2 separate regions of the Homo sapiens genome follow, and region 1 is linked to region 2. The links come from fine-mapping of genetic effects on gene expression. A gene starts in region 2. The other region holds a variant in brackets. All regions are shown on one strand. Distances are between the middles of the regions. Region 1 overlaps DLEU2 (deleted in lymphocytic leukemia 2). Region 2 holds the start of SPRYD7 (SPRY domain containing 7).

Region 1 (4,395 bases), 170 kb before region 2:
CAGAAGAGATATGGGTGTATGTGAGAAGTAACATAAATAAGGGTAGGTTAATGAAGTGCAAACTATACATAATTGCTAAAGGGATGTGGAAAATCAAGTGATTTAAATCTAGATTGATATTGGGTAGAAGTCTGCTGGAATAGGCAAATCTTTTTTTTTTTTTTTTGGAGACGGAGTTTTGCTCTTTTGCCCAGGCTGGAGTGAAGTGGCGTGATCTCAGCTCACTGCAACCTCTGCCCCCCTGGGCTCAAGTGATTCTCCTGCCTCAGTCTCCCAAGTAGCTGGGATTACAGGCGCCTGCCACCACGCCCGGCTAATTTTTGTACTTTTAGTAGAGATGGGGTTTCGCTATGTTGAGACTGGTCTCAAACTCCTGACCTCAGGTGATCCACCTGTCTCAGTCTCCCAAAGTGCTGGGATTACAGGCGTGAGTCACTGCGCCCAGCCAGCAAATCTTATGTAGAATTTTTAAGGAGTGGTGAATTTGGATTGCCAGAGAGAAAAGATAACCATTCATTCATTCATCAAAGATTTATTGAGTGCTTACTGTGTGCCAGGCACTGTTCTAAAGACACAGCAGCAAACAAAACTGTTATAGAACAGGATAAGGCAGGTCATCTCCCAGATACGACACTTTGATAGGAACACAAAATACAAATAGGAGAGTAGAAAGAGATGAAATACAAAGAGAAAGAGCTGATATTGGGCTTATATTAATATTGAAAGGCCTTACATGCTAGATATTCTAAATGGGAGAAACATGCTGGAAAGATACTTGGCATGAATGAACTTATGTCCCTATGTTCAGAACAGACTGCTTTCCCTTCTCTGTTGGTTGGCTCTTCTAGCCTCCTAGGAACTTTTATAATCACCAGTATGATCCAATATAAATACTGCACATATGAAGGTTCCCAGTTGAGGAGTTTGGAAGCAAAAAGGGAAAGAATGGCTGGCAAAGGCTTCAATCTTCTGTCTCCTTTTATCTTCCCAATGGCTAGTAGAAAATACTATCATCAATCTCTTCCTTGCAACAATCTCCCATTTGATATTTGTCTGCATTGTGACTCAATTCCTGAAGGTTCTGTTCTTCATTCCTTTCTGGTAGAATCACTGAAAAGAAAGGAGATTACATTTACATTTGCTTTCTAGTCAATCAGGTTTTTCTTATTCGCCCAGCAACACTTCTCTACAGAGAGTTTGATGAAAAGTATTTTATGTTTTATATAGGCTAGTGGAGACATGGGTATGGCAGGATGGGAGGGTAGGGAAAATATCAAGAGGCTATAGTCTTGATATATAGTACTCTTGATATAGTACAAGCTTGATATTTAATAGCTTGAATTAAATGGGCAATTTTAAAAATGAAAAGAAACATATCTGCAGTGCCTTACAAAGAAGTAACTATAAGAAGTAACAAGTTTAGTGATCATTTACCTATAGGGAAGAAATAAAATAAGGAAATGAACCTAAGATTGTAAACTTAAAGGTCCAAAAACTTGTGTTGTCACCAACAACAGCCAAGAAATTTGGAAGAAATACCTTGAAGGAAAAAAATAATGTCAGATCTAAGTGGGATATTACTAGAAGACAGAGGAGAAGCTTTCTTGATAAGCTATCTGGCCTGTTGATGTACATATGAAAGTCATCATCATACAGAAATTGAGTCCAGGCGCAGTGGCTCATGCCTGTAATCCCAGCACTTTGGGAGGTCTTGAGCTCAGGAGTTCGAGACCAGCCTGGGCAACATGGCAAGACCCCATCAATACAAAAAATTTTAAAAAGTTAGCCAGGCATGGTGACACACCCTTGTAGTCCCAGCTACTCTGGAGGCTTAGGCGGGAGGATCACCTGAGCCCAGGAGTTGGAGGTTGAAGTAAGCCTGCACTCCAGCCTAGGCAACACAACAAGACCCTGTTTCGTTAAAATAAATAAATAAAAGAAAGAAAAATTGATTGACATTCTATGGACTAATGAGGGAATGGAATGAAGATCAAATGGTTGTATATGAACTTTGATTGCAAGATAAGCTACCAATTACTGACAAAAAAAATTGAGTAACATACTGCATGATTCCACATATATCAGTTCTAGAAAATGCAAACTGGTCTCTAGTGACAGAAAACAGGCCAGTGGTTTCCTGGGGAGAGAGGTAAGAGGAGGCAAGGATTATAAAGAGGCAAGGGGAACTCTTAGGAATGATGGCTATCATCAGTTGTATTTCTTCCTTTCTAACTTGAATGCGATTTATTTCTTTTTCTTGCCTGATTGCCCTGG[A/T]CAGAACCTCTGATGTTGAATGAAAGTGGTCAGAGCAGATATCTTTGTATTATTCTTTATCTTACGGGGAAAGGGAAAGCATGCAGTTTTTCATCATTATGCATAAGGCTATCTGTAGGATTTTTATAGATGTCCTTTATCTGGTTGAGAAAGTACCCTTCTATTCCTAGTTTGCTAACAGGTTTGGTTTTTTTTTTGTTTTTTTTGTTTTTTTTGTTTTTGGTTTTTTAAAATCAGGAACAAATATACGATTTTGTCAGATTTTTTGGGTGTCTATTGAAATGATCAGATTTTCTTTTTTAGCTTAATATAGTGACTTACAATGATTAATTTTTTAATTTAAAGCAATGACATATTTTTGGGATAAACCTCATCCAGTAATATTAACTTTCTTATATTTTGTTGGATTTGACTTGTTAAAGTTTCGTTGAGAATTATTACATCCATGTTCAAGAGGGAAACTGGGCTATAGTTTTCTTTTCTTGTAATGGCTTTGTGTGGTTTAGGTATCAGGGTAATGCTGGCCCCCAAAAATAAACTGAGACGTATTCCTTCCTCTTCAGTTTTCTGGAAGATTTGTATATAATTGGTATACACAGTGTTATCCCTAAGTGTCTGGAAGAATCCACTAGTGTTTCTTTGTGAGAATATTTTTAACTATTAATTTTTTAAAAATAGATACATAGCTTTGGAAGTTATCTATTTCTTTTTCTTTTTTTTTTCTTTTTTTTCTTTTTTTTTTCTTTTTTTTCTTTTTTTTTTTTTTTTTGAGACAGGGTCTCACTCTTTCACCCAGGCTGGAATGCAGTGGCATAATCAGGGCTCAATCTCGCAAGCTCAAGCGATCCTCCCGCCTTAGCCCCCCAAGTAGCTGGGACTACAGTCATGCACCACCACACCCAGCTAAATTTTTTTGTATTTTTAGTAGAGATGGGGTTTCTTCACATTGCCCAGGCTGGTCTCGAACTCCTGGACTTAAGTGATCTGCCCACCTCAAACTCCCAAAATGCTGGGATTACAGGTGTGAGCCACTGCACCTGGCTGTACTTCTTTTTGAGTAAGCTTTGGTAGTTATGTCTTTCAAGGAATTTGACCATTTCATCTAAGTTGTTGAATTTTATTTGCTTAAGGTTTTTCATAATATTCCCTTGCTATTCTTTAAGTATCTGTAGAATTTGTCATATTTCACCTCTCATTCCTGATATTGGTAATATGTGTCTTCTCTCTTTTTTTTTTTTTTTTCCTGATCAGCGTGGCAAAAGATTTATCAATTTTATTTATCTCAAAGAACCAGGGTTTGGTTTCATTAATACTCTCAATTTATTTTGTTTTCCATTTCATTTATTTCTACTTTGATCTTTATTATTTCTTTTGTTTCTTTGTGTTTAATTTGTTCTTCTTTTCTAATTTCTTAAGGTGGAAGCTCATTAACTTGAGACTTTTTATATTTTCTAATATAAGCATTTTGCTTATGTCTTCCTACATACTGCTTTAGTGGCATGCCACAAAATTTGATATGCTTTGTTTTCATTTTCATTCAGCTCAAAATGCCTTCTAATTTTACTGCACTCCTATTTTAATCAATGGGTTATTAGAAGGTTATTTAGTAGCATGTTATTTTGTTTCCAAACATTTGGGGATTTTCCAGACAGCTTTCTGTTATTGATTTCTAATTTTAATTCTACTGTAGTCAGAAGACATACTCTGCATTATCTGAATCCTTTAAAATTTACTGAGACATGTTTTATGGCCTAGAACAGGGGCAGGCAAACTTCTCTAAAGGGTCAGACAGTAAATATTTTAAACTCTGTGGGCCACATATGATCTTTGTCACATATTTTCTTTTCTTCTTAAAGAAATCTTTCAAAATGTAAAAACCATTTTTAGTTCATGGACTATACAAAAACAGACTACATTTGGCCTCAGGGCCATAGTTTGATAACCTCTGGCCTAGAATATGATCGATTTGGGTAAATGTTTCATGTATACTTTGAAGAGAATATATATTCTATTACAGGTTGAGTATCCCTTATCCAAAATGCTTGGGACCAGAAGTGTTTCAGATTTCAAAGTTTTTTGGATTTTCTGAACATTTATATATATATATATAATAAGAGATCC
Region 2 (4,395 bases):
ACTTCTTTTAATAATATTTCTGAACAAAATTTTTACTTTATAACAACTAATTCTATTATATTTTGTCTATACATGCATTATGGCAGCTTATATCCAATGTGGAGATAAATGAAACACACAAAAAAGGGCAAATCTGCATTTTGAACTGAGAGCATGTTTAAGAGGATTATAGCATTAATTATAAGAGAAAGAATTTGAGAGGCAGTGTTAAAGCAAACTAAATATGGCCTGAGAAGGACTCTGTACTTCTGTATTTGAGTCCTTGTGTACGAACTGTAACCTAGGTTAATAGGCAGACAAGCTTGAAAACCTAATTTAGGAGTATGCACCTGTAACAATAGCTGAGTCTTGGCCAATCCCAGCGGCCATACTTCAACCAGTCATACACTGCTGATTGTTCAAACTGTGTTCAAATAAGGCAAACGCCCCCCTGTAACCAATGCAGCTGTTTCTGTATCTCACTGCTGATTTCTGTACGTCACTTCCCTCTTTTTGTCTAAAAATTTGTTCTGACCACGAGGCATCCCTGGAGTCTCTCTGAATCTGCTGTGATTCTGGGGGCTGCCCAGTCATTCACTGCTCAGTTTAACTCCTTTAAATTTAGTTCAGCTGAAGTTTTTCTTCTAACAGGAATCAGACTGGTAAGCCTTGAATCCTACCTGTTTATCTCCTGCTCACCTGAAGTTGTAAAGTTTAGTACCTCTAGGCCTATTTCTTCACCTATAAAATGGGGACAATACTGACCTTGAAATCTTGAAATAATTCAACTAGATATATATATATGAACGGTAGAAAAATTTTGTCTCTCCAATATTCTGTTAAAATTCTCACCCCCTGCCCCGCCCCCAGCACTTCCCTGGGGTTAAAAAAAAAAAAAAAAAAAAAAATCAAAGCACTTAATTCCCAGCATAACGATGAAGGTTTGTCATAAAAGAAAATTTCTTGTGTGAAATGATTACCAAGAAAGTACTGCATACGCAATGGGGGAAAAGACCAACCCTCAATCAGTTTAATAATCACCTTGGTTATTAAATTCTATGGTAACTTAATTTCAACGTACAAAACTTTCCCTTAGTATTGTAATGAAAACACCATTTATAGAAAGAGAACCAGGAACCTGAAAAATTCCCCTCATTGCATAGATAGAAATCCTCCTTAAAAAACATTTATAACTCGGGTCACTAAAAGTTACGTATGGGAAATCATTATTTAAGTAGTGGGCATTTTATGTCCAGTTTCCCAGGACTTGATGATCCATCCCTAGGGAAGCCTTCAGGATGAAACTGATCTGGGAACAGAGGTTTGAGCTAGGTTAATTCTAGAGGTCGTCCCAGACATTTCCAGATGCCAAGCGGTATCTTTTTTTTTTTTTTTTTTTTTTTGGAGACAGAGTCTCTGTTGCCCAGGCTGGAGGGCAGTGGCGCGATCTAGGCTCACTGTAACCTCCGCCTCCCGGGTTTAAGCGATTCTCGTGCCACAACCTCCTGAGTGGCTGGGATTACAGGCGTGCACCACCGCACCCAGCTAATTTTTGTATTTTTAGTAGAGACGGGGTTTCACCATGTTGGCCATCCTGGTCTTGAACTCCTGACCTCAGGTGATCCGCCCACCTCAGCCTCCCAAAGTGCTGGGATTACAGGCGTGAGCCACTGCACCCGGCCTGAAGATGTAAAATCTACCACGGAAGGATGATCTAAGTGGGGAAGGAGATGACAGGTGACAGCCTCCCGTGTGGAAGCAGAAAGTAGCGGACGGTAGGAGCCGAAGGCTTCCCTCGGGACCCAGCAGACTTCCCGCAGCCTCCTGGGTTCCCGTCACATTCCTCGGAACCCTCAGTGCACCAGACAGGGGGAGCTTGGAAGAGGCAGGTCAAGAATCGCCCCCGACCCCGCCCCAGCGTTCTGCTCCCAGGGCGGCCTCCCACGCGCCCCGGACCACGCAGCCCGATGGGCCAGGTAGGGCGCGTCTCTGCACCGAAAATGCATTAGGGCCCGCGTGAGCCCCGGTGAACATCCACAGTGCAGTCACTAACAGGCATTACTCCTGGGGCCCACGTGAGTCTATTTAGCATGTGAGGGAAACCAGCCACGGCAGGGAGACTGGGGCTCTCCGTGGTGGCAAAGCCTGCTCAACCTGGGCCCGCGGAGGGAAAACTCGGAAGTCATTTCCATTAGCTCCCCTTCCCCCAAACTGATTCGCTTCTGTCAATCCATCCCTAGAAATAATGTCGAGGCCGGGACCAAGGGGTGCTGCGTTTTAAAAATTCTGCATAGGAAAACCCCTGGAAGTACTGAGGGACAGACAGCCCCACTCACCTGTCAGCCCTGGGGGCGTGCGCGAAACCGCCCAAGGAGAAAAAACCAGCTGGTGCGCAGGCGCACGCCGTCCCACATCCGCAGGCCCGCAACGCCACGCCCCCTGCCACGCCTCCGCGCGCCACTAGCCCCACCCGTCTCCCCGGCCCAGCCCGGCCGCTCGCCCTGTCCGGTCTCTCCCCGGCCCCTTGATTCTCCGCGTCTTCCTCGCAGGCCAGCCTAAGCTCAGCCTGCATTGCGCCCTCCCGGCCTAGGGTGTCGCTGTACCGGCCTCCGAGCTCCACATAGACAAGTCCGGACCTCGGGCGGGGGCAGGAGACGGAGCTGAGCGGCGGGGGGCAGTGTCGCCTCGGTCTAGGGACGGCGGCGGAGTCGGTGGTCCCTGCGCGATGGCCACCTCGGTGTTGTGCTGCCTGCGGTGCTGCAGAGACGGGGGGACTGGCCACATCCCTCTGAAGGAGATGCCGGCCGTGCAGCTGGACACGCAGCACATGGGTAAGGGCCCTCCCTTCCCCAGACCCAACGGCTCACGGGGGCCGGGCGCGGCGGGCAGGGGGACCTTCAGGGTCAGAGGGTCCCCACGCTGCCCCGCCGCGCCGGCGACGCTGCGCCGACACCATTTCGTCTCGCAGATCTCTCCAGAAGCCGGCGGACTCCACCTGGGCCCGGTTCTGTGTTCAAGGCTGCGCAGCCCTCTCTGTGTCTGTCATCGCGAATGGGCGTGTGGACCTCCCATTTTCACAGGAATCTCGGAGGCTTCCTCCGGAGATGTCACACGTCCTCGGGCGAGGGGGCGGAGAGTGCCCTTCTGGCGCGCCCCAGTGAAAACCTACACATTTTCAGAATGCTTCTAGGTCCGGTCTTGCTCCTCCTCCTGCCCTGACTGTCGGTCCTGTCTCTTGAGCCCCATCATTTATAGGTTGAATCCTATATTATTGGAAGTAATTTTCCTCTCACCTCCTAAAGTCGAAACAAGGCAGACTGCAGAAGTCTGAAGTCGCACCTCAGGTCAGAACTTGCCATTTCAACTAAAACCTCCCATTGCCCGACTCCTTAGTCATTGTGAGAGGTACTGTAATTTCATCTGACTGGCCTCTTCCCAACAGGTCTAACTGTTGAAAAATAAAATAGCACTTTGCTCCTTTGCATCTTGCTTTATCCTTTTAATTCCAAATCCATATAATTTATCTAACATTCTTCCTCTCCCATCATAGCCTCTTTCACCACCTTATTATTTCTTAGACTTTTCCCAGGTAGTTTCATGCTTCTGGAATGTGGTTCTAGAAGGAGAGATTTCCCAATATAATTATTTCAGTTAGAGTACTGTCTTTTTGTGGATTATTTTATTCTAACTGTACTTCTGCACTTTTGATTTTTTACACGTTTCTGATTGTTTAAAGGACAGTGCATTGAAATAAAAAGGCACTTCTTAATATTTATGATAAAACTCTCTCGCCCAGTTTCCTTATAATTCTGGAAACACTCTGCCCACTGTATTTTTGTATAACACATACTAAATGTGATAACTATATAATCACCTTGTATGTGTGTATTTACTTTTAATTCTCAGATCTCCCAAATGTAGTACAGAACCTTAATACATAAGTAATCTTTAAATTATTTTTTATCCATCATTATTTATAGACGATGGAGTTCAAATTCTATAGTTTTCCTCAGAAAATATTTCCATTTCAGTTACTCATTTACTGAAGTGATATTTATTAAGCAATTATCAGGTGGCAGGCATTGTTATAAGTGCTGAGAATATAGTGAAGGACAACCATACATAATTCCTGGAACTCATGATCAACTGCAGCACTTCTTCCTATCTTTACTGTTAGACTCTTGAATTACTGCAGTCTCCTCTTTGGAGCATTCCTTTTCTCTGTCATCTGTTTCCTCTAGGAAGAGCTGGTCAGATATACTCATTCCACTGTGTTTTATTTCTCCAAAGCTGTCCAGCAACTGTCAGCTACTAACTGGATGAAATAGAGTAATGTCATCTCCAAATTTTCTAACTGCATGGAAGTTTTTTCTTCTTCTTTTCTTTTTTTTTTTTTTTTTTTTTTGAGACGGAGTT

What was found. PIP is the estimated chance that this variant, and not a neighbour inherited with it, causes the effect. A credible set is the group of variants that fine-mapping cannot tell apart.
Region 1: its variant is the best candidate, but not a certain one, in a credible set for the expression of SPRYD7 in lung (TOPMed, PIP 0.81).

What each region holds. Positions count from the first base shown.
Region 1 is chr13:50,101,419-50,105,813 of GRCh38, reverse strand. The region is part of intron 1 of DLEU2 (deleted in lymphocytic leukemia 2); the gene reads left to right. The region is part of intron 2 of DLEU1 (deleted in lymphocytic leukemia 1); the gene reads right to left. Among named protein-coding and RNA genes, the nearest start is that of DLEU1, 21 kb to the right of the region's middle. The variant A/T (reference allele first, on the strand shown) is at 2,275.
Region 2 is chr13:49,934,545-49,938,939 of GRCh38, reverse strand. It overlaps SPRYD7 (SPRY domain containing 7), which reads left to right and starts at 2,600. Exons shown (of 5, transcript NM_020456.4): 1 at 2,600-2,810. The coding sequence starts at 2,705. RefSeq lists enhancers at 1,620-1,669, 2,540-2,789 and a silencer at 2,250-2,499.